7 linked regions of the Homo sapiens genome follow. The protein of the gene in region 1 interacts with the protein of each later gene in a pairwise test. Each region holds a gene or a part of one and is shown in the gene's direction. Other genes may lie near its edges. The genes, in order: STAT3, NR4A1, MAP3K7, RET, LMO2, BLK and NFE2L2.

Region 1 (3,500 bases):
AGATGTGGGAATGGGGGCCGAGCCAATTGTGATGTAAGTTTTGTTGGGGATGAAAGACAACTGGGGTGTTTTCCTTGAGGGAGAGAGGGGTAAAGATCCTTCTTAATCCCCAGAATTAGAAACATCAACCTGTTCTTTCAGCTGTAGTTATTCCAAAAAGTCACTTCAGGCCAAAGTGACATGAACAGAAGTTCCATGTGCCATGGAGCTCTCTGGCTTGGAACATTTCCGTGAATATCTGGGAGTTGGCTCCTCCTTAAGGAGAAGTGGAAAGTCCCTTGCTGAGTTGTTCTCCACACCCATGTGGTATAAAGCAGCTTTCCACCTTGCCTGGGGCTTTCCAAATTCCCCATCCAGCTCCTGCGGCTGACCCTGCTTGGCTCCATTTTTAGTGCCCTGTTTTTCTCTCCCACTGAGGTGGGATAGAGGGTGTAAAAGCAACAGATTTGAGTTAAACTTTAAAATAAATGACCACCTTGCATTAGCTTGCTTAGGAAAAGAGTACATAAAATAAAATGAACAAACAAAAACCCATCTTGTTCTTTATCCCCCTTATTTTCTGCTTTTCATTGATTCAGATTATTGGATTCTTATTGTCAAGAATAAACTTTAAACAAACAAACAAAAAAAGGTAAATGTGACGGAAGGCTAGTTTTCAGTCATTTTTAAAAATTGTGATGCCCCGTTCTTTTTCTTACATTTGTCCCCTGAACAATTCTTCCTCTTTAAAATGTAGCAGTCCTAGCTGGGCGTGCTGGCTCACACCCCGTACTTTGGGATGCCAAGGCAGGCTGGTCACTTGAGGTCAGGAGTTCAAGACCAGCCTGGCCAACATGGTGAAAGCCCGTCTCTACTAAAGATACAAAAATTAGCTGGGTGTGGTGGTGCACGCCTGTAGTCCCAGTTACTGGGGAGGCTGAGGCATGAGAATCGCTTGAACCTGAGAGGTGGAGCTTGCAGTGAGCCAAGATTTTGCCACTGCACTCTAGCCTGGGCAACAGAGTGAAACTCTGTCTCAAAAAAATAAATAAAATAAAATGTAGCAGTCCTTTTTAAAAATGTGGAATTTTACTTGACAGTAGAGTGAAGTAGCCTGTATGCAATGATATGGGAAAATGTACATGACATATTAAGAAAAAGCAAAATGTAAAATAATTTGAATAGTATTATTAGTATATGTGTTTTAAAAATACACTATACTCTTATGTGTATTCATATGTATATTAAGAAATTCTGGAGGAATATACCAGCAGTGCTATGTGTATTAGTGCTGCTGTTGGTATCCATGGCTATTCTAGACTGTCTCTGTGATATTTGCATTTTAAACTGAATATATTACTTTTATAATCAGAAAAATAGTATTAAAAATGAATTATAATTTAATTTCTTTTTTCTTTTTTTTTTTTGAGTCGGAGTCTCGTTCTATCGGATTGCAGTGGTGCGATCTCAGCTCACTGCAACCTCTGCCTCCTAGGTTCAAGCGATTCTCCTGTCTCAGCCTCCCAAGTAGCTGGGACGATAGGTGCATGCCACCACGCCTGGCTAATTTTTGCATTTTTAGTAGAGACAGGGTTTCACCATATTGGTCAGGCTGGTCTTGAACTCCTGACCTCGTGATCCACCCATCTCGGCCTCCGAAAGTGCTGGGATTACAGGCATGAGCCGCTGTGCCCAGACTAGAATTCAATTTTTGAGAATTCATTGACAACTCTTACTTAAAATAAGGTTGCTGTACTGATGTGAGACATTGTTGTAGTCAGTTTGGAAAACAATTTGGCAGTATAAAAATGAACATACCTGTAAACCAACGGTGCCATTCCCAGGATTTAATAGCAGAGAAATCTTTGCATATATGTCCCAGGAGACATATATAAAGTGGACATCAGCCTGATTATAAGCTCTAAATGCAACCCAAATAAATACCCATCAACATTAGAATGAATACATTATTTGTGGTATAGACACAATGGAATACTCCGCAGCTGTGAAAAGGAATACACTGCAGATACACATAACCATGTGGATTCATTTCACATCAAGTGAAAAGTGAATCCCAAAAGAATTCATTGGAGTCCATAAGTGTAAGGTTCACAAATGTCCCAAACTAAACAATACCTGCATTGCTTAGATAAACAAATATGGTAAAACTGTAAAAAAACAAAACAAAACAAGACAAAAAGGGCTAGGAAATGATAAACCCAAAAGACAAAATAGCAGTTATTTCTGAGGGAGGAGGGAAGGGGATGGGGTTGGGGAAGGGCACCCAGAGAATTTTAGGAGTGATGGACTTTTCCTTAAATTGAATGGTGGGTTCATATTGTTTTGTTATTCTTTGTGCCTTACGTATTTTACAAATAACCAATTGGATCTATGTAATATTATAATACAAACTGAGTAAAGGATTAGGTTGAGGATCACAGCATTGGAAGTTCTTGGTGTTGAAGAGAGTAAGTGCCGAGCAAGTTGTGTCCCTGGCAGTTTGTTTGTGACCACCTGGTGGCTTACCCTTCTTGGTGTGGTGAGGCTTGGCATGTCACTTTCCTTGGCTGTGGCTGTTAGTACTGAATGCCATTCTCTCTGAGGAAAAGTGTCCTTCTCTTTTTTATTGATTGACTGATTGATTGAGACAGAGTCTCACTCTGTCACCCAGGCTGGAGTGCAGTGGCGTGATCTCGGCTCACTGCATCCTCTGCCTCCTGGGTTCAAGCGATTCTCCTGCCTCAGCCTCCTGAGTAGCTGGGACTACAGGCGCCCACTACCACACCCAGCTAATTTTTGTATTCTTAGTAGAAACGGGGTTTCACCAAATTATTGGCCAGGCTGGTCTCGAACTCCTGACCATGTGATCCACCTGCCTCGGCCTCCCAAAATGCTGGGATTGTAGGTGTGAGCCATCACGCTCAGCCTTTTTTTTTATTTAATTTAATTTTTTTTTAAGACAGGGTCTCACTCTGTCACCCCAGCTAGAGTGCAGTGGCACAATCATAGCTCGCTGCAGCCTCCATCTCCTAGGCTCAAGCCATCCTCCCACCTCAGCCTCTCGAGTAGCTGGGGCTATAGGTGTGCACCACCACACCCAGCTAATTTTTGTATTTTTTGCAGAGATGGAGTTTTGCTGTGCTGCTTAGACTGGTCTCGAACTCCTGGGCTCAGGCAATCCTCCTGCCTTGGCCTCCCAAAGTGCTGGGATTACAGGCATGAGCCACCACACCTGGCCTAAGAGTGTCCTTCTCGTTACTGTAGGCTTCCCTGATTGTGACTGAGGAGCTGCACCTGATCACCTTTGAGACCGAGGTGTATCACCAAGGCCTCAAGATTGACCTAGAGGTAAGTTCTGCAGCAGAATCGGTGAGAGGCTACGTACAGGGGTGACTCAGGACAAAAACTTCCACTGGGATTTTTACAAGAGAAGGTGGAATGATTACTGTTTGCTTAACACTGTGTTTATTTTTGCTTACTTTTCTCCAAAAAAATCCTTGGCATCCCATCTGGCAATAAAG
Region 2 (2,781 bases), on another chromosome or scaffold:
CAGCCCCGAGGCAGCCCCCGCTGCCCCCACTGCCCTGCCCAGCTTCAGCACCTTCATGGACGGCTACACAGGAGAGTTTGACACCTTCCTCTACCAGCTGCCAGGAACAGTCCAGCCATGCTCCTCAGCCTCCTCCTCGGCCTCCTCCACATCCTCGTCCTCAGCCACCTCCCCTGCCTCTGCCTCCTTCAAGTTCGAGGACTTCCAGGTGTACGGCTGCTACCCCGGCCCCCTGAGCGGCCCAGTGGATGAGGCCCTGTCCTCCAGTGGCTCTGACTACTATGGCAGCCCCTGCTCGGCCCCGTCGCCCTCCACGCCCAGCTTCCAGCCGCCCCAGCTCTCTCCCTGGGATGGCTCCTTCGGCCACTTCTCGCCCAGCCAGACTTACGAAGGCCTGCGGGCATGGACAGAGCAGCTGCCCAAAGCCTCTGGGCCCCCACAGCCTCCAGCCTTCTTTTCCTTCAGTCCTCCCACCGGCCCCAGCCCCAGCCTGGCCCAGAGCCCCCTGAAGTTGTTCCCCTCACAGGCCACCCACCAGCTGGGGGAGGGAGAGAGCTATTCCATGCCTACGGCCTTCCCAGGTTTGGCACCCACTTCTCCACACCTTGAGGGCTCGGGGATACTGGATACACCCGTGACCTCAACCAAGGCCCGGAGCGGGGCCCCAGGTGGAAGTGAAGGCCGCTGTGCTGTGTGTGGGGACAACGCTTCATGCCAGCATTATGGTGTCCGCACATGTGAGGGCTGCAAGGGCTTCTTCAAGGTACCGCGCAGCCCCAGGTGGGGCCTTTTGTTGGAAATGGAGAGAGGCTGGCCTCATCCCATTGGGACCTGTGGTCTCCCCCTGGGTTCTCCTCCTAGCTAAGTCCTGTCCTGCAGGGTGGGATCAGCCCTGCCAGGTGGGCCGCCTTCCTGGAGACCCGTAGATGCCAGGGCTGGAAGCTTTCATTTGCCGGGACACTCGGGCCCATGGGATTGCACAGAGCTGGAGGGAGGGGTGAGATAGGGGCAGATAGGAGCTGCAGGGGTGCCTGGCGAGCCTCTGGTTTTCCTCTGCTCCTCTGCCTGTCCTCTCCCAACTCAAGGTTCTAGTGGGAAGGGGTGCCCCCAGGCTCTCATGTTCCTGGCGTGAGATGAAAGGATCCCTGCGGAGGGTTTGGTTCTTGAGGGCTGGGGGTGGACTTGGGAACAGGCTGTGTGTTTGTCCCAGCGATGGTGCCTGCTTAGCTTCCCGTCCCCACCCCCCAGCCCCTTGGCCCTCTCCTGTCTGCCCTAGGGAGAAGGCAGGTGGACAAGGGCCCATGAAAAAATACAGGTGTCTAGACTGCCAGGGAGACCCTGGCCCCCAGTAGTGTGTCCTGGGGACTTCCTCAGAGCGAGAAACCTCCCCCAATGTCTTCAAGACTTTTCTCTCCCCCCGCCCAACCCCGTCTCTCCCTCCCTTGCCACCCAAATGTTAGAAAAATAGCTGTGAACAGAGAGCGCTTTTGTCTGCAATGGCAGCAGGATCTGGACGGTCCCCTCCCCTAAGTTCCCCCCTCCCCACCCCACACTCTGACAGCTTGTTCCGTGTTGCCCCCCCACCCAGCGCACAGTGCAGAAAAACGCCAAGTACATCTGCCTGGCTAACAAGGACTGCCCTGTGGACAAGAGGCGGCGAAACCGCTGCCAGTTCTGCCGCTTCCAGAAGTGCCTGGCGGTGGGCATGGTGAAGGAAGGTGTGTGGCTGGGGTGCGGCCCAGCGGGGCAAGGGTAGGCTTGAGTGGAGTGGGACCAGCAGGGCCCCCAGGCTTCTGCCCTGGAGGACCCAGAGGAGGGCACGTCTTATTTCCACCCCACCTCTGAACCCCAGGCCTTGGAGGGAGGCAGCCTACACCTGCCTGGATTGTGAGGGTGGTGGCAGGGGGAGGTTCCTATAGGGTACCTTGGATCTCAGGGACTCTGGGTCCTAGGGACTCGGTGGGGCGCGTCTCAGCAGTGGTGTGCACGGCTTGGGCTGAGAGGCCCTTCCTCAGATCCCTTCCTTCCTCACCCCTACCCATTCCTTTGCAGTTGTCCGAACAGACAGCCTGAAGGGGCGGCGGGGCCGGCTACCTTCAAAACCCAAGCAGCCCCCAGATGCCTCCCCTGCCAATCTCCTCACTTCCCTGGTCCGTGCACACCTGGACTCAGGGCCCAGCACTGCCAAACTGGACTACTCCAAGGTGAGGTCCCACCCCGTGTCTGCCTTGGGGAGGTCTATGAGCACATGCAGTGCCTTTGTGCGTGTTAGGAGAGCTACCCCCTCTGGAAGGACTGAATGAGAAAGGAGGTTTAAAAAAGAAAGAAAGAAAAGCGACTCCCTCCAGTTCGACAGATCAAAGAGAGGATCCCCCTCTCGGCTGACCAGATGGGAAAATGCACCCCCTCAGGCAGGTGGCCAATTAGAAAAATATGTCCTTTTGGCAGCTGCAGCCCTGGGTTAATATGTGAGACTTGGCAAGTGAGAGCCTGGGCAGGATCTCAGATCCACTCCCACTCCCGGGATCTGGCATCCAAGTGTCTGACACAGCCATACGTGGCAGTGGGTGTAGGAGCCTGCCTGGGGTGCTGACCCCACTGGACCGTCTTCCTAGTTCCAGGAGCTGGTGCTGCCCCACTTTGGGAAGGAAGATGCTGGGGATGTACAGCAGTTCTACGACCTGCTCTCCGGTTCTCTGGAGGTCATCCGCAAGTGGGCGGAGAAGATCCCTGGCTTTGCTGAGCTGTCACCGGCTGACCAGGACCTGTTGCTGGAGTCGG
Region 3 (3,500 bases), on another chromosome or scaffold:
TGAACCCTACTCACCGGGACATACCCTCATGCTTTGAGGAACCCTTTTCACTTCAGGGATGTTGTTCAGGATAGATCTGCCACATACTAATTGCTGTCTCAAAACTGAAAATTGTTATAATAATGGTTTCATGTCTTCGCTAGTATCATATTTCTAGTCAAGCACTGGTTTTTTATTATTATTTACAGAAATGACTTTGCTAGAAGGATAACCACACACATTAAAATTTTGCCTAAGTGTAGAACAAATGCTATTGTACATCCCTTGAGTTTTACACAATTTAAATTTTTTCATGAATTGTCTTACTTGGAAAGAGTCATACTTTCCAGCCTTTTGACAGACTTTGTGTTTACTGTGAATGTACCCTAAACTTTGGAAAATATAATAAATATTTGGTACTAGAAATATGTATAAGTATGACTACAAAAGCATATACATTTCACACTTTGATTCAATAATTATTATTTAATCATTGGATTTTACTTTATAGCACACTTCAAGAAACACCTAACTTGAACATGTATTCCTGTGTTTGTGTAATTAAAACAAATACGACAACTTACTTTTTAACGCCTTTCTTCCTCTCCTCCTTCGTTCCCCCACCCCCATCACAGATCAGTGATTTCACTTAGGTAGACTGTTTCTATGAATATATTTGAAATTTTGCTTCCTCATTACCCTGCAGCTTTGTCTCTGTTCTTTTTATTTTTTTCTGCTAATTAAAACCAGTGTGTAAAACATCTTGTATTTGGTAGTTGTTTGCTCTTTAATCTCGCCTTTTCTGAGCATGGATGAAAAGTTAGGTAGTTCTGCATGCCATTCTGCATGAAATGTTATTAACATGAACTATTTGAAAATGAGTCTATTTTTGTAGTTAATCATTTTCCGTGTTACTGTTTGTGGTTGTTTGCATGTATACTGTATATATGTGTTTTTGCAGCCTATTCCAAGCCTAAACGGGGCCACCGTAAAACTGCTTCATTTGGCAACATTCTGGATGTCCCTGAGATCGTCATATCAGGTATCATAGACCACCTGAGTTGGTCTAATAGCTGTGGAACCGGAATAATGATCCCTGGTACTTGTAAAATGCTTCTTGCTCCAATTTTTACAAGACATGAAAATGGATACCTTGCATGCAGTAATTAGGGAGACAGATTGAAAAACTACATTTATTCTGAAGCAGTCTTGAAAAGATACCTCTGATCTACAATAAGTGAGGATAAAATAGAAGAGAAAGTAAACCTTTTTGGAGAAGGGAGAACACCAACCCAGAATTCTACCAACTTCCTCTCTACTTTTAAGTGAGCACATGAGCTAAACCCAGACCTTTTTTGCACCCAACAGAAAGAGGAAACAACTAATTAAAATTTGTTATTTTCCTTGGCTCCTTTCCTTCCTCAGTTACTGCTTTTTGGGTCCCCTCTAGACTTTCTGTCCTAACCTCTTTCTGTTGGTAGCAAGTGAATGTGAAGTTGAGAGAAGAGAGTTGCTAAATAGCATTTTGCCTTAACCTGGAAAACAAAAAGTAAAGCTAAATGAGATGTGCTGTTTTGCAGGGTATCTTGCCAAAGAATCATGTAAAATAGTTGGTCAATTCTGATTTTTGTGTATTATCAGGAGAATCTCATAAATTACATGTTTTTATACCTAACTTACACATGGTACTTTAGTGTCTAAAATTGGTAAACTGCTTTATTTCTTATGGTGATCATTTCATAGAGGAATATGTTACCATTTTTAATAGAAACTTAAATGGCATATTGACCTTCAGTATTGATTAATGTATTATCAAAATTATCATTTATTTATCCCTTTAGGCTTTTCTCTACCTCTTTACCCAAAATCTTGATAAGGAAATACATATTTTCCACACACGTTCATGAGTGCGAGTTGGATGAATTCTTCAGCATGCTGTCCTTTGCCTGTGATTGTGTTTTTAGCAGTGTTGATAATTCTAGTTGAATACCTAATGGTTATTTTCTCCTCTACTAAACTGAAAACTATGTAAGGATAGAATCCATATCTTTGTGCATTATTTTGTTGTTGTTGCTTATTATTGATTGTATCAGCAGTTGCTGGCTCAGTGCTTCACATATTAAGCATATTAACATAGTGTTTAATAAATACATTTATTAAATAAATGAACAGACCTATTGAGCATCTCCCCTGGTGAGAAACTAGCATACAAAAATATGAATTATACTATTCTTAGGTGCCATTTTGTCTGTATAAAACTATCTTATATTAATTTTCCCCTGGTTATCAAAGTGGTTTCTTATTTTACAACATCATTACTATTGCTATTCAAAGAGTAGAGTTAACCCATTTTTCACATGGTAATTTTTATTTATTGAATCTGGACTGCTTCAGAAATTAACAAAGAGATCATTTTACATGGAGATCAGTTTACCTCCATGCGGAAAGGTACTGTGTATAAGGGACGTACTTTAAAGAGGTGGAAGCATTTAAACTTACATACCGCTGAACTGTGCTTCCCTTAAATGTTTGAGGGAATCAGGAAAATTTAGACAGATGGCAGTGTAATCTTATGACTAAGCATTAAGAATAAATTTATATATGGCAGCGTAGCCCACGCTATACAAGATAATGGGGGAGGGAAAAATAAGGAAAGAATAATAGTTTATAACTGTCAGGTACTACTGGCATCTAGTGGGCAGAGACCAGGGATGCTGCTAAACATCCTGATGTGTACCAGGCAGTCTTCTCCAACAAAGAATGATCCAGCCCAAAATGGCAGCAGTGCTGAGGCTGAAAACCCCTGATTAGATGTTCTTTGTGCCCTACAAAGTAGCTTAAAGTACATCTTATTTTACCTTTATACAATCTTACAACTAGGTTATCGGATGAAATTATAGCTGTTTAACAGACGAAGAACTTAGATCTGATGATGTTTAGTGGTTTTTCCAGAATCATATAGCCAGGACCCCAACCCAGATCTTCTGACTCCAAGTCACATCCATTTTTTGTTCTTTTGTTTAAGTCAGAGAAGCTAGAGTAATTTCTTCTTGCTTTCTCTTAGTGTTCACATTAAGGAGAGCTCTTCAGCCAGGGAGATCCTCTTTTATGACATTGGGCCTTTATGGAATCAGGTAACCTTAATTCTCTTAATTGCCAGAGCAGCAGTGCTATTCATATGAAAATATTATTCAGTAATACCTTTTATTAAATATTCTTTTTAGGCTTTTCCCCCCTCAGATATCAAACATTAACTTACTCAGGTGCACTTTCTTTAATAGAAGAATACAAGCTGTAGAATTGACACTAGTGGACATAAAAGCCAATCATGAATGTGCTCATAGGTAATGTTTTTAAATTAAATATAAAAATACCGCCCATCCTTTGGGAATATCTCAAATTTCCTACATGACATTTTAATTGTAAAGAAGGGTGATACTTAATTTCCAAAATTTCTTAATACTTTCTAGAAATTGTTTTGTTCTAAGTGGATTTCCCACAAGCTTTATGGTATTAGCAAA
Region 4 (3,500 bases), on another chromosome or scaffold:
CCGTGGGATCCTGTCACATGGTCGTTCTCACCCCAGGAGGCTTCAAGTACAGAGGACGCGGGGATGGGGGCACGCAGGGGTGTACCTGCACACACTTCTGCCTACCAGCTCTCCATCCCTTGTCCTGGTCCACATAGCAGGGGCTCCTGGCGGGCCCAGCAGCTGAGGGGGACAGAGGGGGAAACAGGGTAGCAAATAATTATGGTTTACTCTTTTTTAATTGTGAAATTTGTGTAACATAAGTTTAACCATTTATAAGTGAACCATTTGGTGGCATTTAGCACATTTACAGCATTGAACAGGCATTGCCTTAGTTCCAAAAAATTTGCATCACCCCAAAAGGAAACCCCATACCCATTAAACAGCTGCTTCCTGTCCCCGGGCAACCCCCAGCCTGCGTTCTGTCTCTGCGGCTTGGCCTGTCCTGGAACATTTCATCTGCATGGACTGTTGTCTGGCTTCACTCAGCATAAGGTCTTCAGGGTTCCTCTAGGCTGTGGCACACATCAGCCCCTTCCTGTGAGGGGTAAATAGTGTGCCGTCACCCATTCATCTGGGGATGGACACGTGGGTGCTTTCCACCTTTTGGCAGTTATGAAAAATGCTGCCAGGGACATTCCTGTTATAAATACCTGAGTTCGTGCTTTCAGTTCTTTTGGGTACATACCTGGACATGAAATCGCTAGGTAATTCTGTTTTATATTTTGTGGAGCCGCCAAACTGTTTTCCACAGTGGTTGAATTGTGTTACATTCCCAAGGGTTACAATCTATCCACATTCTCACCACCACGCATTATTCTCTGTTATTCTCTGGTTCATGTCTCACTCTGGCCGTGCAGCCAGTGCACAGTGCTAGCTCGTTGTGGCTTTGGTTTGCCTTTCCCCGGTGATGGCGTGCTGGGCATCTTTTCCTGTGCATGCTGGCCAGTTGCATGTCTCTTTGGAGAAGCATCTCTTCGAGCCCTCTGCCTGTTGTCTAACTAGATGGCTGTCTTGCCATACAGCTGACTTTGCTGTTGCATCTGCATCAAGAGCTGCAGAGAAGCAGCTTTATCCAGGGCCGTCACTGTCAGTGATTGAGCCCCAGGTCCCTTGTGAGGAGAGTGTGGATTCGTCTGATTCCTCACATGGGCATTGAATCACCACTGCCCTCGAGGACCTTGAGGACATTCTCGGAAGACCTGGACTCTGAGGCCACGTTGAGCACCAACATCTGGAAACCATGGTGTCACTGCTTGTGCATAAGAAGGGGCCTCTCAGGAACCGCCCTGTGAAGGATGGAGGAAGGGGAAGGTGCAAGGAGCCAGCAGACCCCCACCCCACTGACAAGACGAGACTCAGCAGCAGGGGAACCAGGGCCGCCCTCTCTCGCTCATCCTGAACCCTGACTCTAAAAATAACCAGGCTGATAATCGGATCCGCTGTAAGTTGATTATCATCATTGCCGTGGTGTGATGTCATGCTGCCAGGCCCTGGGGCAGTTTTCTCAGGACAGCGGTGGATGCACCTAGGCAGCTCTGGAGGCCAGCATGGAGCTGGGGGGCCCTGAACCGAGGGTGGCAGGCAGCCTCTGTGGGCTCCTGCAAATCTGCTTGGTGGGGGTGGAACACTGGCATCCATAGGCAGGCACTCTGTGCTCCCAAGGAGGAGTTCCTGTCCCCATTCGCAGCTAGGGACAGAGCCAGGGAAGCCAAGTGCCCAGCCCTGGCAAACAGCGGGGAAGCACAGGGGCATGGGCTGGGCCGCTCTGCCCTGCGTTTCTGCTCCTTCCTGCTGCTGAACTCTCTCCTTTCTGCTGCTGAACTCTCTCCTTTGGACTAGGCCTTTGTCTTCTTGCCTCATCGTCAGTGGCCTGGGAGGACACTTGCAGTCTTAATCCTGTTTTGGCCCCATGTCCCTCACCCCCCAGGGGCCACCTAGGCCAGAGCCTGTCCTGATTTCCATCTCGGCCACCGTCTGCCCCTCGGCCCCTGGTCAGGAGCTCATTCTGTGGATACTCCTGCATAGACATCACGTGGACTCAAAGGGCATGAGGACCTCGGCTGAGAGGAGCTTACACATCAGTGCAAACCTCTCATTTTACACAGGGAGAAATCGAGGCCCTGAGGGAGGCGTGAGTTGTCACACATGGGGGTAGTGTCAGATGAAGACTTGGCACCACTTCCCTGGGCATCCCCTTCCCTGCATGGCATCCCCAGCCTTGGGTTTGGATTCTTCTTCACCCTTGATGTTGAGGTCTTTGCTCCCAGGACCTGGATAACAGCATCCAGATGCAGGTGGTGCCCCCGCATCGGGCTGCCTGGCTGTGACCTGGGGCATCAGGATTGTCAGCTTGTCTGGCCCCAGGTCTGTGCTGGGCTGAAACCTACTGTCTCAGAGGCTCCTGGCTCTCTCCCTCTGCTCTCCACTGCTCTTAAGAGCAGACCCTCAAGCCTTTTTTGTGTCCTCTCTCCAGGGAGAGCCCAGCTTCTACTCTGCAGCCCAATGCAGAAGGGGTGGTAGCTCACGGTGCCTCGGCTTCTCTGCATGCCTGTCACTGAACAGAGAAGCCCAGGCCAGACTGCAGCTTAATTCCTAGCCTCTGTGTGGCCTCCAGCAGGGTACCTAAGCTAGTGCTGCCTCATTTTCCTCCTGTGTGAGATGGGAATCCTCATGGTCCCTACCTCTGACAGTTGTTTTGATGCAGTGGGTGATGCAGATGAAGCGCCCGGAGCAGACCTGCTCATGAGGAGCACACCGTGGATTCCTACTGGTTAATGTTGAACAGGGATGAGAAGGGGCTGGGGTAGGGCGAAAATGGGCAAGACCATCTCAGCTTGAGGAACATGAGCTGACAGATTGACTTAAATTTGCACATGGACATGATCTGAGTCACTGCCTTGCTGAGTGCATGGGGACAGTTGCCCAGGCCAGAGGCACCAGGGTCAAAGCCAGTGGTGATGCCCTGGCCCCGTTGCCCCAGGCCAGGGCCAGTGAACAATGTAATCAGCTGGGGCAGACTCTACAGCCCTGCAGCCAAGGGGGCCAGTGACCCTTACATGGTCATCCACAGGCCACTTGGGTGGCCAGTCCTGTTCAGCCAGGCCTTGCCCTAGGAAAGAAATTAATTATAACCTAATTGGCAGTTTCCTTTGCATAGAAGCCGGAAGCAACTGCCAGTGAGGCTGGTGATTAACTCTGCAGCAGCTGGGAAATTGCAGTTGGGCAGGAGCGCCCATCATCCTGGCCAGGCCGCTGCAGCTGGTCTGGGTATGGAAGTGTGGGTGGTGGCCATCGTGCAGCTTAGGGCCTGGGCCCCTCAGAGCAGAAGGCTGGGTCTGTGTGCAGAAGGTAGCCTTGGGCTGCCAGGTCCCCCAGTGCCCAGTTGCGGACCTCCTTCTCCCAAACCTCAGCCATGCCTGGACCCCTTCCCCACTCACGGCAGAAGGCTGCATGGCTTTTAGGGGTGTCAGGAGGCTCATGTCCTGGTTGCAGTTCTACCATGGGTGTGCAGCGGGAAT
Region 5 (3,500 bases), on another chromosome or scaffold:
TATTAAAGATCCATTTTCTCAGTTACAAAGATCCAAGACTCCTCGAGGGTATTCTACCCTAACGGAAATAGGACAGGCTTTGTAGTCAGACTTGAACCCTGGCTTTGGCGACTACTAGCTGTCCTGCCTGGAGAAGTTGCGTACCCTTCCTGAGCCTCAGTTTTCCCTTTCATTGAATCAGGATGATAATACACACTTCATTCATCCACTCAGCAAGTGTTTACTGGGCGCCTCATACACAGCAGGAACTGTTCTAGGCACTGCGGATACGTAGACGTCAACAAAACAAACATTGCTCTTGCCTGAAAGGGGCTTACAAACTTGAGAGGGGGAGACAGACACCAATCAAATAAGCAAGTACACATATAGTATGCCAGATGGCAATATGTGCTAGGGAGAAAAATAACACAGAGTGAGGGAAAATGGAATGCGCTGGCCCGGGTTATTAGTGTCTTACTCAGGTGATGAAGGAAGACCTTTCTAATAAGAAGAACTCACATCTGGGGAAGAATGTTCCCGGAAGAAGGAGAAGAGCAAAGGCCCTAAAGCAAGAGTTTGAAGAATGACAAGGGGTCCTGTGTGGATGAAGCAGAGGGAGGGAAGGAGGAAGGGAGTGTAAGAGAAGGGGACACAGAGATGGCTAGAGCCAGATATGCAGGGCCTTATAGGACTTTGGCTTTTTACTCTGGGCAAGAAGGAAACCTTGGGAGAGCTTCAAGCAGAGGAGCGAAATGATCTGATGCAGGTTATGAAAGGATCCCCCTGGCAGTGGCACAGAGTATGGCCCCTGACCTGTGTGGATGGGGCAGAAGCATAAGGCTGGCCATTTGCATCCCACAAATGACCTCAGTGTGAGGGATGAGCGAGATCATATACGAATGCGCTTGCGTGAGTATGCATAGAGCAAGTGCTCAAGCCATGGCAGCTTCTATCAATGGCCCTGCAGCTGCCTGGCTATAGCTCCCTGGTCTCCTGCAGACAAGTCTTGGCCAGTCACGTGAGTGCCTCTGTCATTGCCCACTCAGTCATTCCCCCTGCCCCCACCTCCTTTCTTCAACCCTTCACTGGTGGTTAAGCTCCTAGCACAGCAGCCTCACCTCCAGCCTCTCCCCACCCCAACCCAACCCAAATGCAACTCCACTCACATCCTTCCCCTGTTCAAGAGTCTTCCATGGACTAGTGGCTCATTAAATCCACATTCTTGGCTAGGTGCAGTGGCTCACACCTGTAATCCCATCACTTTGGGAGGCCAAGGCGGGCAGATGGCTTGAGCCCAGGAGTTTGAGATCAGCCTGAGCAACATGGCAAAACCCCATCTCTACAAAAAGCAAACAAACAAACAAACAAAAAACAAAACAAAAGAACAAAACAAAAATTAGCCAAGCGTGGTGGCACACACAGCTGCTTGGGAGGTTGAGGTGGGAGGATCACCTGAACTCAGAAGGTCAAGGCTGCAGTGAACCACAGTATCACCACTGCACTCCAGCCTGAGCAACAGAGCAAGACCCTGTCTCAAAAAAAAAAAAAAAAAAAAAATCCACATTCCTGGAGACTTGCAGCTAAGGCCTTCCACAATAAGATGCTGCATTTACGTTTCCCACCCATAATCAACTGCTATCCCAAACATATTGAATATCTGTGGAGAAGTATGGGTGGGTGCAATATGTCACTCCTAGCAGAATCACTGAGGAAACTGACCACACTCATGATGGAAAATTGACGGTAATGAGTCCTTCCCTCAGGTTCCCCAACCCCACAATATGCCCTAACCATGGTGGACATGTATTCCTGTCTGTCACTGGCTCACTTCTCCCACCAGGCTACCGCAAACTCCACAATGATGTATATTCTCTTAAAGCTACAAAATGGCTTGTGGTTTCCAAATCAGTTTTCCTTACTGCTCTTATCTCCCTTGATACTTGCCCCTATGGGCCCCTCATCCATAATAAAATGCCCTCATTTTACACTTACTAGTTCTGACAAGAGTCCCAGGTTCCAAGTCATGGATTCCCATGTGGGATTGCTCCTCTGATCCTTCATTCCTATATCTTTTTTCAATCTATCCACAATTCACAAGGCATCGGTGTCAGACCAATGGCAAATAATAAGTGGGACCTGCTGGCTATGGATGGAAGAGCGAAGTCCCTGACAACATGTTTCTACCAGCCTGGAAATGAGGCTCTCCCATCCCCTAACACATCTACCAGTTGTGATGGATTTAAAGGCTGGCTAATGTTAAGCTTGTTCCACAGGGGATAGAATATTGGCCCCTGGACTGACACCTACCACCATGTGGATCTTGGAGCAAGACAAAGGAGCCCCCCAACATTCGTGTTCTGAAATAACAATGCCTGAGGCTGTCTATTCCCCACCACGGATGCCAAAGCACAGACAGCCACTCACAGCTGTGGGATACAGATGCCCCTGTCATTATAAAAGGCCAGCCCTAAATGCTATTACAGAGTCTAAAAACTGAAAATGTTATTGTGAAACCTTTAGGTTTTTTATAGCTGGCTATGCCTGATATAGCTGGTGGCCTGGGACACAGTTTCCCTACTCAGCGCTGGGACACCTCGGCAATACTGCACCCACAGTGTCATCCCTATCTGTTTGGAATGTACAATTCTTCTACAACACCATGGGCCAGGAATATCACATCATCCTGAGAAGCCATCAGGACAAACAAAAAGGAATGTGGTCCTGTATGTTTAGTCCCACCTCCCCTACAAACTACTTTTATCATAGAAATGATGCCCAATTGTCAGCCCAGCGCATGTGGTGTCCTCCAGCACCCCTTCTAAATGTGCCCTCAAGCACCCCTTCTGCTTTGTGCATCTTTGTGACACCCTTCCAGATGTCAGCCTATATCTCCATGACCCAAATCTGACTTAAGAGTTGTGGCCGGGCATGGTGGCTCATGCCTGTAATCCCAGCACTTTGGGAGGCCAAGGCAGGTGGATCACCTGAAGTCAGGAGTTTGAGACGAGCCTGGCCAACATGGTGAAACCCCGTCTCTACTAAAAATACAAAAAAATTAGCCAAGCTTGGTGGTGGGCACCTGCAATCCCAGCTACTTGGGAGGCTGAGGCAGGAGAATTGCTTGAACCTGGGAGGCAGAGGCTGCAATGAGCCAAGATTGTGCCATTGCACTCCAGCCTAGGTGACAAGAGCGAAACTCTGGCTCAAAAAAAAAAAAGGTGTACCAGCCCAGGGAGACAATGGCCACATTGCAGGTGATGACCACAGCCCAGCCAACCACTGCATCCTGGAGGCTGCCCACCAGTTACCCACATCATCTACCAAGGGACCCCCTTGCTGGAGCACAAACAGCTTCCCTTGGGGGATCCCTCAATCAGCATTTGTCACATACCTGAAAAGGGTGGCCACCACACAGGCCACCAAAGTTATAACTCTCTCCTCTCACTTCCTCCCCATTGGGCACAATAAACCTCATTGCCATTGTGGCTGGAACTTCCCTTCCTGGGCCTCCCAAAGCAATT
Region 6 (3,500 bases), on another chromosome or scaffold:
GCTTAGCAGGAGGAGGAGGGTCCGCTGCGGTGGGTTCACCAGGCCAGGGGGTCCTGCAGATCTAGGGCATGGCACGGTGTGGGGACAGGGAGGGATGGAGGGAGGGGGAGGGACAGAGGGAGGGTGAGAAACAGGAGGGTGAAGTGGTTCTGACAGAGCCATGTTCTCAGCCCAGGAGCAGTTCAGACAGCATTTCTGGAGTGCATCTTCTGTGCCTAGCACTCTTTGATGCCTGCTGGGAGGGACAGAGCATTGCAAAGTCAGACGAACACCAGGCCAGGCATGCAGGGACAGTACTAGATCCAGGTCTCCTGCCTCCTGGTCATGCAACCATTTACAACTGTGTGAATATTTTACAAGGATGGCCAGAGAGGTTGGGCTTGATGGCCTCTGAGGTCCACGGCGTGGCCAAGTTCTCATGCCACTTTCTCACCCTCCTATGACCCTGACCGCACACTGCTCCTATAGGATCCTAACATGCCCATGTTGATATAGCTCCCTAACAACTGTCACCAAGGGGCCCCCGGTCGGAGGCTGTGCTGGGGGTGCCTCTAGCCTGCCCCTAGGGCAAGCATCCATCCCTCCCAGCTTTCTGATTCCAGGGGGAGCTGCATTTGTCCCCTGCACCAAACCTGGGGGACAGTTCTCTCCATTCTGGTGCTTTCTTGCTGATGCCTGGTCCTCAGAGGCAGAGGGTGTCTGCCAGCAGGGATCAAGGGAGCGAGGCCAACACGGGGGGAAAGACAAGAAGGGGCATGAAACTTCGAGTCAGAACTGGGGTCCCACTCCCAGCTCCCGGCTGGGTGACTTCAGACAGGTCCCTGCACCTGGCTGAAACCTAACTTCTGGGCAACTGCTGGTATATTGGCTGCCTCCCGGGGTGCTGAGACTGGCATTTTGTAAAGTGGAAGGCACTCGGCAGCAGTAGGTAGATCCTTCCTGATGCACCGAGAGATCTGAGGGTGCAAACTCCCACTTCCCGCGCCCATGGGGAGCCACTCACACCAGAGAGAGGCTGGCACCACCAGGGGCGGGTCACTTTGCAGAAGGGCACTTGCAACTTCTCTTTTCTTAGGATGCCTGCTGGATTTCCTGAAGACAGATGAAGGGAGCAGATTGTCACTCCCAAGGCTGATTGACATGTCGGCGCAGGTTGGTGAAGTACCAGGTGCAGAGAAAGGGCGGCATGTGCCACCTGCTGCCCACAATGGCTGCTCGTGCCTTACCACCCCATCCTCTCAGCCAGCAGGAGAAGTCAGGGGGTACTGAAGGCCACCTTCCTCTAGGCAGATATCCCCAAGGTCACCCACTGCACTTGGACTTGCAAACCCTGGCCACTGTGCCTCCTGCCCCACGCAGCTGTGAGGGAGCCCAGGGAATGGAGCCTTAGACCCGGGCTGCTGTGTTGGAATGAGGCTATTCTGTTCCGAAGGAAGAGAGGGCGAATGAATGTCATGGGAAACACACAGAGTTAGCAAGAGTTCCATTGAACCCGGCAGGCAAGTGTGTTCTGTTGTGACCTCATCTCTTCCTTAGATGGTGCCCACAAACATCTCCTGTAGGACTTCCCATCCCAGGGGCCCTCAGCCTTTGCACAGCCCTGGCGTCGACCCCAGGCTGATGGGCAGGCCTGAGCTACACACAGATGCCAGGGACATGACTTCTCTGAGCCCTGGAGGACAGCCCCACCTTCTGCCACCAGGGAATTGCGAGTGCTGGACCTCCTTGGCTACCCAGGACTGGTCCTCAGTGTCCCTCACGTTCACATGCAGAACTTTCTGGACTCCATGGGGTGAAGAGCAGAGTGGAGAGGAGGGTTTTAGCCGAGAGCTCTAGCTGGCAGGAAGCACATCTGGTGGCCCTGTTAAAACTGGAACTCTCAGCAGAAAAGTTTTGGTCTGTGGTCAGCCTGTGAGGCACACACGTGCGTACACATACACACACACATACAGCTGCCACCGAGAGGAAACGCTCCCACCCACCGCCCACATCAGCCCTCCCACCTCGCCCCTCGCCCAGCCTTACCCAGTAGCGCCGCTGCAGGAACTGATGCCACAACGCCTTTTTCCGCTGAGGTGGGCAGACAGCCATCTGGGCAGGCTGGTTTTGGAAAATGAGTGCTGGTAACCGGCTTCAAACCCCAGGGCAGTGATAAGCCTGCCCACTGCTGCTGCTTCCTTTCCCCTTCCTTCTCTCACCCTCCGCTGTCTCCTATTCAATCCCCACTACACCCCCTTGGGAAATCTCGTGTGACCCAGGGGCAAAGGATGTGAAAAGCCATCGGAGTTTAATACCTGGATGTAGCCACAGAATCGGGGGTGAGGAGCCAGAAAATCAGAACTTCCCAGAAGGGCAGCCTCTAACCACATGCTGACCATGCCAATGGCTCTCTAAGCACACATGTACACACACACACTCTCACACACATAAAAACACAGACTCACACACACACGGACAAACACAAACACATACACAGACTCACACAGACACGCAAACTCACACACAGACAGACACACACACAGACACACAGACTCACACACACAAACTCACACAGACACACAAATACACAGACTCAGACTCAAACACAAACTCACACAAACACATTTACACAAACTCACAAACTCACACACACAAACACACACACAAACACGCAAACTTACACACACATGAGCAGACACACACCCGGCCCTTCTGGGCTCTTCTTTTCTTACTCCATAGGAAGCCATGCAAAGTCTCGCCAGACCTTTCTTCCAAGGCCAGATCTGGCCAACCCCACAGGAACCCTGCAATCACAATCCCTCGGGCCCCACTTTGCAGCCAGATGCCACCGGTTCCCATGCCCCATGCCTCGCCACCCCTCTACCTCCTCTGCCCAGGAAGCCTTGAACACTTCCCACCTGGCAGAATCCTTATCATCATCCATGGCTCAAGCGTAATGTCATTTCTATGAAGGTTTCCCTGGACAAGAAACTGCCAGAGAGCCCTTAGCTCAGGTGTTCCCGGAAGCACTGTTCTTGCTCAGCAGATCTGGGCAGCTTCTTCTTGAAAGCAGATCTGGGCCCTACTCAACATTTTTTAAAATATATTTCTGGTACTGTTCAATAAATATTAGTTATCAGAACGAGTACTGTTAGATGCTGCCCAGATATATTTAGTACTCAGTTTTATATTCCCCACAGTCCCATATTAGTAAATGAGTATTGATTGCATGGTGTAGCAAGGGGATGGATGGATGCATGGATGGGTGGATGCGTGGGTGGGTGGGTGGGTGGGTGGGTGGGTGGATGGATGGATGCATGGATGGATGGATGGATGGATGGATGGATGGATGCATGCATGGATGGATGAATGGGTGGATGGATGGATGGGTGGGTGGGTGGGTGGATGGATGGATGGATCCATGGATGGATGGATACATGGAAGGATGCATAGATGGATGGATGGATGGATACATGGATGGATGCATGGATGTGTTGATGGATGGATGGGTGGGTGGATGG
Region 7 (3,500 bases), on another chromosome or scaffold:
CCATGCAGCCTCTGGTTCCATGATGCAACCAATGGCAGATTGGTTCAAAAATATTTGGAAAAAGGCCAAGCACAGTGGAGTGGTTCATGCCTGTAATCCTAGCACTTTGGGAAGCTGAGGCAGGAAAATCAATGGAGCCCGGGAATTCAAGACCAGCCTGGGCAAAATGGCAAGACGCCATCTCTACAAAAAGTAATTAGCTGGGCTTGGTGGCATGTGCCTGTAGTCCCAGCTACTTGGGAGGCTGAGGTGGGAGGATCACTTGAGCCCAGGTGAAGGCTGCAGTGAGCCATGATTGCATCACCACACTCCAGCCTGGGTGACAGAGTGAGACCCTATCTCAAAATGAGTAAATAAATAATAAAATTTCAAAAGGAAAAAAGTGGAAAAAAAACCCGAAAAAATAACAATACACACATAAAATACAGTATAACAACTATTTACACAGCATTTACACTTTACTAGGTATTGTAAGTAATCCAGGGATGAGTTAAAGTATATAAAGGGATATGCATAGGTTATTTGCAGCAAATGCCATGCCATTTTATAATAGTGTAGGCTCATGGCTAATAAAGCATGAACCCGACTGAAGCTGCCTGGGTATGTGTCTTTGTTCAGCCACTTTCTGGTAGTATCTTTTTTCTTAACCTCAGTATTCTTATACTGTATAACAGGAATGTTTTCTCTGTATAAGGCTGTTTTGAGGAATAGTTTCTATATGTAAAGTACTTAGAACAGTGCATAGCATATAGGAAGCCCTTAATAGATACTGGCTTAAAGATAATTAGGTATGTCCTAGTGAGGTATACCTAACTACAAGTGCTACTTTAACTATGCCTACTTTGTGTGCTTTACAATATATATTGTTCAAGGCTAGAATAATGAGCCCCATGAGCAGGGTTTCATAGCATTTAAGATTCCAACGCCAACCTTCAATCATGGACACAGGTGGCCTGTGCCATCTAGCTAGCTGCGCTGCCTCCAGGCTGGGTGGCCTGCTCCTCTGTTGGATAAAAATAGCCTGACTCCTCACTGAAACAACCACCATGTTATTTGCGTCCTTGGGAAGCTGAAAGTAATAGAACTCTAAGTCTGGCGTTGCCAGCTGTCAGCAGAATGAAATGCAAAGTGTGACGTGTCTACACTGTACCCACTGGCCTTCAAGTCCCAACTCCCGTTCCCCCATCTTGATTTTTTTCCATTCTCAAATTAATTATTTCCCCTATAGGTGATTTGTGGAATGGAAACAGATTTAGATTTCCTACCTATTTAGATTTTTCCAAAGACTAAAATTACAAATCAGAAAAACTGCTATTGACACATTTTTGGTTAGGAAAATCTGGATGTGGTTCCTATGCCTAGCCTAGTCATATAAATTCTCTCCCCATGTATCTTTTTGTGTGTGTGAAACAGGGTCTTGTCACCCAAGCTGGAGTGCAGTGGTACAATCACAGCTCACCATGGCCTTGACTTCCTGGGCTCAAGCAATCCTCTCACTTCAGTCTCCCTAATAGTTGGGACTACAGGCTCGTATCACCACGTGCAACTAATTTGTTTTGATTTTGGGTAGAAACAGGTGTCACTATGGTGCCCAGGCTAGTAACTCCTGTGCTCCAGCAATCCTCCTGCCTTGGCCTCCCAAACTCCTGGGATTACAGGCCTGAGTCACCAAGCTCAGCCTCTCCTCATCAAAACCATTCCCTCTTTGTAAGATTCTTCCTATGTCTTAAAACTTAATACCTTTAATCCTTCCCTGGAGCCATAGTTTTATTTATTTATTTATTTATTTATGAGACAGGGTCTCACTTTGTTGCCCGGGCTGGAGTGCAGTGACACGATCATAGCTCACTGCTGCCATGACCTCCTGGACTGAAGTGATCCTCCTACCTCAGCCTCCTGAGTAGCTGGGACCACAGGTGTGCGCCACCACACCAGTTGTTGTTGTTGTTGTTTGTTTTTGTTTTGGTAGAAACAGGGTCTCTCCATGTTGCCCAGGCTGGTCGCGAACTCCTGGGCTCAAGCAATCCACCTGCCTCAGCCTCCCAAAGTGCTGGGCTTGTAGGCGTGAGCCACCGCACCTGTCCCTGTCTGCTTTTATTTTATTTTTTTTTGAGATGGAGTCTTGCTCTGTTGCCCAGGCTGGAGTGCAGTGGTGCGATCTCAGCTGACTGCAACCTCTGCCTCCCAGGTTCAAGCCGATTCTCCTGCCTCAGCCTCCTGAGTAGCTGGGATTACAGGCACGTACCACCACACCCGGCTGATTTTTGTATTTTTAGTAGAGACGTGGTTTCACCATGTTGGCCAGGCTGATCTCGAACTCCAGACCTCAGGTGATCCACCCACCTTGGCCTCCCAAAGTGCTGGGATTACAGGCATATAGGTAAGCCACAGAGATAAGAGTAGCAAGCAGTGATGGGGAGAAGATAATCTAGTGTAGGAAAGATGGAAAGAATGGTGATATTTCACAACTGCTAGATTGACACTTTAACTTGAGAGTTATCCCTCTATAAACTGGATATTTGCTGAGCAAAGTTTAAAGAAAACTCCATGTATTCAGTAATGTTTTCCAGACCCCACTTCTCTTATATAAGCCAGTGGCTTAGAGTGCTTGCTCTAATTTCTATATTCCATTAAACAAGGGTGGGATTTCTTCTCATTCAAACCATTTGTGACTTTGCCCTTTAGTGACCTCTACCATCACCCTATCATTAATGATCCAAGTGATTAGAATGGATGGCTATGTGTTTGTAGGTTGTTTGTTGTCTTTAATGAATAGATTCATTGAATGGAATTAACTGTGCTCTTCTAGAACATTGGATCTGTGTTCTCATTTAGATTGTATTTGTAATCTCCCCACTTCCCACCATCAACAGTGGCATAATGTGAATTAATTTATGTGGTATCTGTCATTTAAAAAACATGAGCTCTCTCCTTCCTTTTTTTGTCTTAAACATAGGACATGGATTTGATTGACATACTTTGGAGGCAAGATATAGATCTTGGAGTAAGTCGAGAAGTATTTGACTTCAGTCAGCGACGGAAAGAGTATGAGCTGGAAAAACAGAAAAAACTTGAAAAGGAAAGACAAGAACAACTCCAAAAGGAGCAAGAGAAAGCCTTTTTCGCTCAGTTACAACTAGATGAAGAGACAGGTGAATTTCTCCCAATTCAGCCAGCCCAGCACATCCAGTCAGAAACCAGTGGATCTGCCAACTACTCCCAGGTACAGAGTACTCAGTTCTTGGGAAAGTTATGGCAGGTTTAAGGAAACACTGAGCAAGGAATTAAAATATCTGGATTTGAGTTCCAGCTTTGCCTTTCTTTTACTTAACCTTGTCAAATCTACTTTCCAACCTCAGCCTCCTGATGAGTTCAGTACCTAACCTGAGTTCAGTACCCAACCTATTGATCTTAACAGTGTTATTGTGAGGATTGGGAAGACTTAAGTTACACCAAAGAGTTTTGTAAAGTATAGAAACATCCTGTAAGGATCAAGTAGC

What was found.
Region 2: the proteins of STAT3 (region 1) and NR4A1 interact in binary tests that used the Homo sapiens proteins (3 or more experiments, as listed by UniProt).
Region 3: the proteins of STAT3 (region 1) and MAP3K7 interact in binary tests that used the Homo sapiens proteins (3 or more experiments, as listed by UniProt).
Region 4: the proteins of STAT3 (region 1) and RET interact in binary tests that used the Homo sapiens proteins (3 or more experiments, as listed by UniProt).
Region 5: the proteins of STAT3 (region 1) and LMO2 interact in binary tests that used the Homo sapiens proteins (3 or more experiments, as listed by UniProt).
Region 6: the proteins of STAT3 (region 1) and BLK interact in binary tests that used the Homo sapiens proteins (3 or more experiments, as listed by UniProt).
Region 7: the proteins of STAT3 (region 1) and NFE2L2 interact in binary tests that used the Homo sapiens proteins (3 or more experiments, as listed by UniProt).

The regions. Positions count from the first base shown.
Region 1 is NC_000017.11:42,325,943-42,329,442, reverse strand, and holds part of STAT3 (signal transducer and activator of transcription 3), read left to right. Parts: coding exon 1-33; intron 34-3,243; coding exon 3,244-3,327; intron 3,328-3,500. UniProt on the Homo sapiens protein: Signal transducer and transcription activator that mediates cellular responses to interleukins, KITLG/SCF, LEP and other growth factors. Once activated, recruits coactivators, such as NCOA1 or MED1, to the promoter region of the target gene.
Region 2 is NC_000012.12:52,054,442-52,057,222, forward strand, and holds part of NR4A1 (nuclear receptor subfamily 4immunitygroup A member 1), read left to right. Parts: coding exon 1-763; intron 764-1,588; coding exon 1,589-1,718; intron 1,719-2,052; coding exon 2,053-2,204; intron 2,205-2,615; coding exon 2,616-2,781. UniProt on the Homo sapiens protein: Orphan nuclear receptor. Binds the NGFI-B response element (NBRE) 5'-AAAGGTCA-3'. Binds 9-cis-retinoic acid outside of its ligand-binding (NR LBD) domain.
Region 3 is NC_000006.12:90,542,073-90,545,572, reverse strand, and holds part of MAP3K7 (mitogen-activated protein kinase kinase kinase 7), read left to right. Parts: intron 1-940; coding exon 941-1,021; intron 1,022-3,500. UniProt on the Homo sapiens protein: Serine/threonine kinase which acts as an essential component of the MAP kinase signal transduction pathway. Plays an important role in the cascades of cellular responses evoked by changes in the environment.
Region 4 is NC_000010.11:43,083,569-43,087,068, forward strand, and holds part of RET (proto-oncogene tyrosine-protein kinase receptor Ret isoform a precursor), read left to right. Parts: intron 1-3,500. UniProt on the Homo sapiens protein: Receptor tyrosine-protein kinase involved in numerous cellular mechanisms including cell proliferation, neuronal navigation, cell migration, and cell differentiation in response to glia cell line-derived growth family factors (GDNF, NRTN, ARTN, PSPN and GDF15).
Region 5 is NC_000011.10:33,885,577-33,889,076, reverse strand, and holds part of LMO2 (rhombotin-2), read left to right. Parts: intron 1-3,500. UniProt on the Homo sapiens protein: Acts with TAL1/SCL to regulate red blood cell development. Also acts with LDB1 to maintain erythroid precursors in an immature state.
Region 6 is NC_000008.11:11,556,887-11,560,386, forward strand, and holds part of BLK (tyrosine-protein kinase Blk), read left to right. Parts: coding exon of another isoform or gene 1-29; intron 30-1,003; exon of another isoform or gene 1,004-1,075; coding exon 1,076-1,152; exon of another isoform or gene 1,153-1,379; intron 1,380-3,500. UniProt on the Homo sapiens protein: Non-receptor tyrosine kinase involved in B-lymphocyte development, differentiation and signaling. B-cell receptor (BCR) signaling requires a tight regulation of several protein tyrosine kinases and phosphatases, and associated coreceptors.
Region 7 is NC_000002.12:177,233,728-177,237,227, reverse strand, and holds part of NFE2L2 (nuclear factor erythroid 2-related factor 2), read left to right. Parts: intron 1-2,956; coding exon 2,957-3,223; intron 3,224-3,500.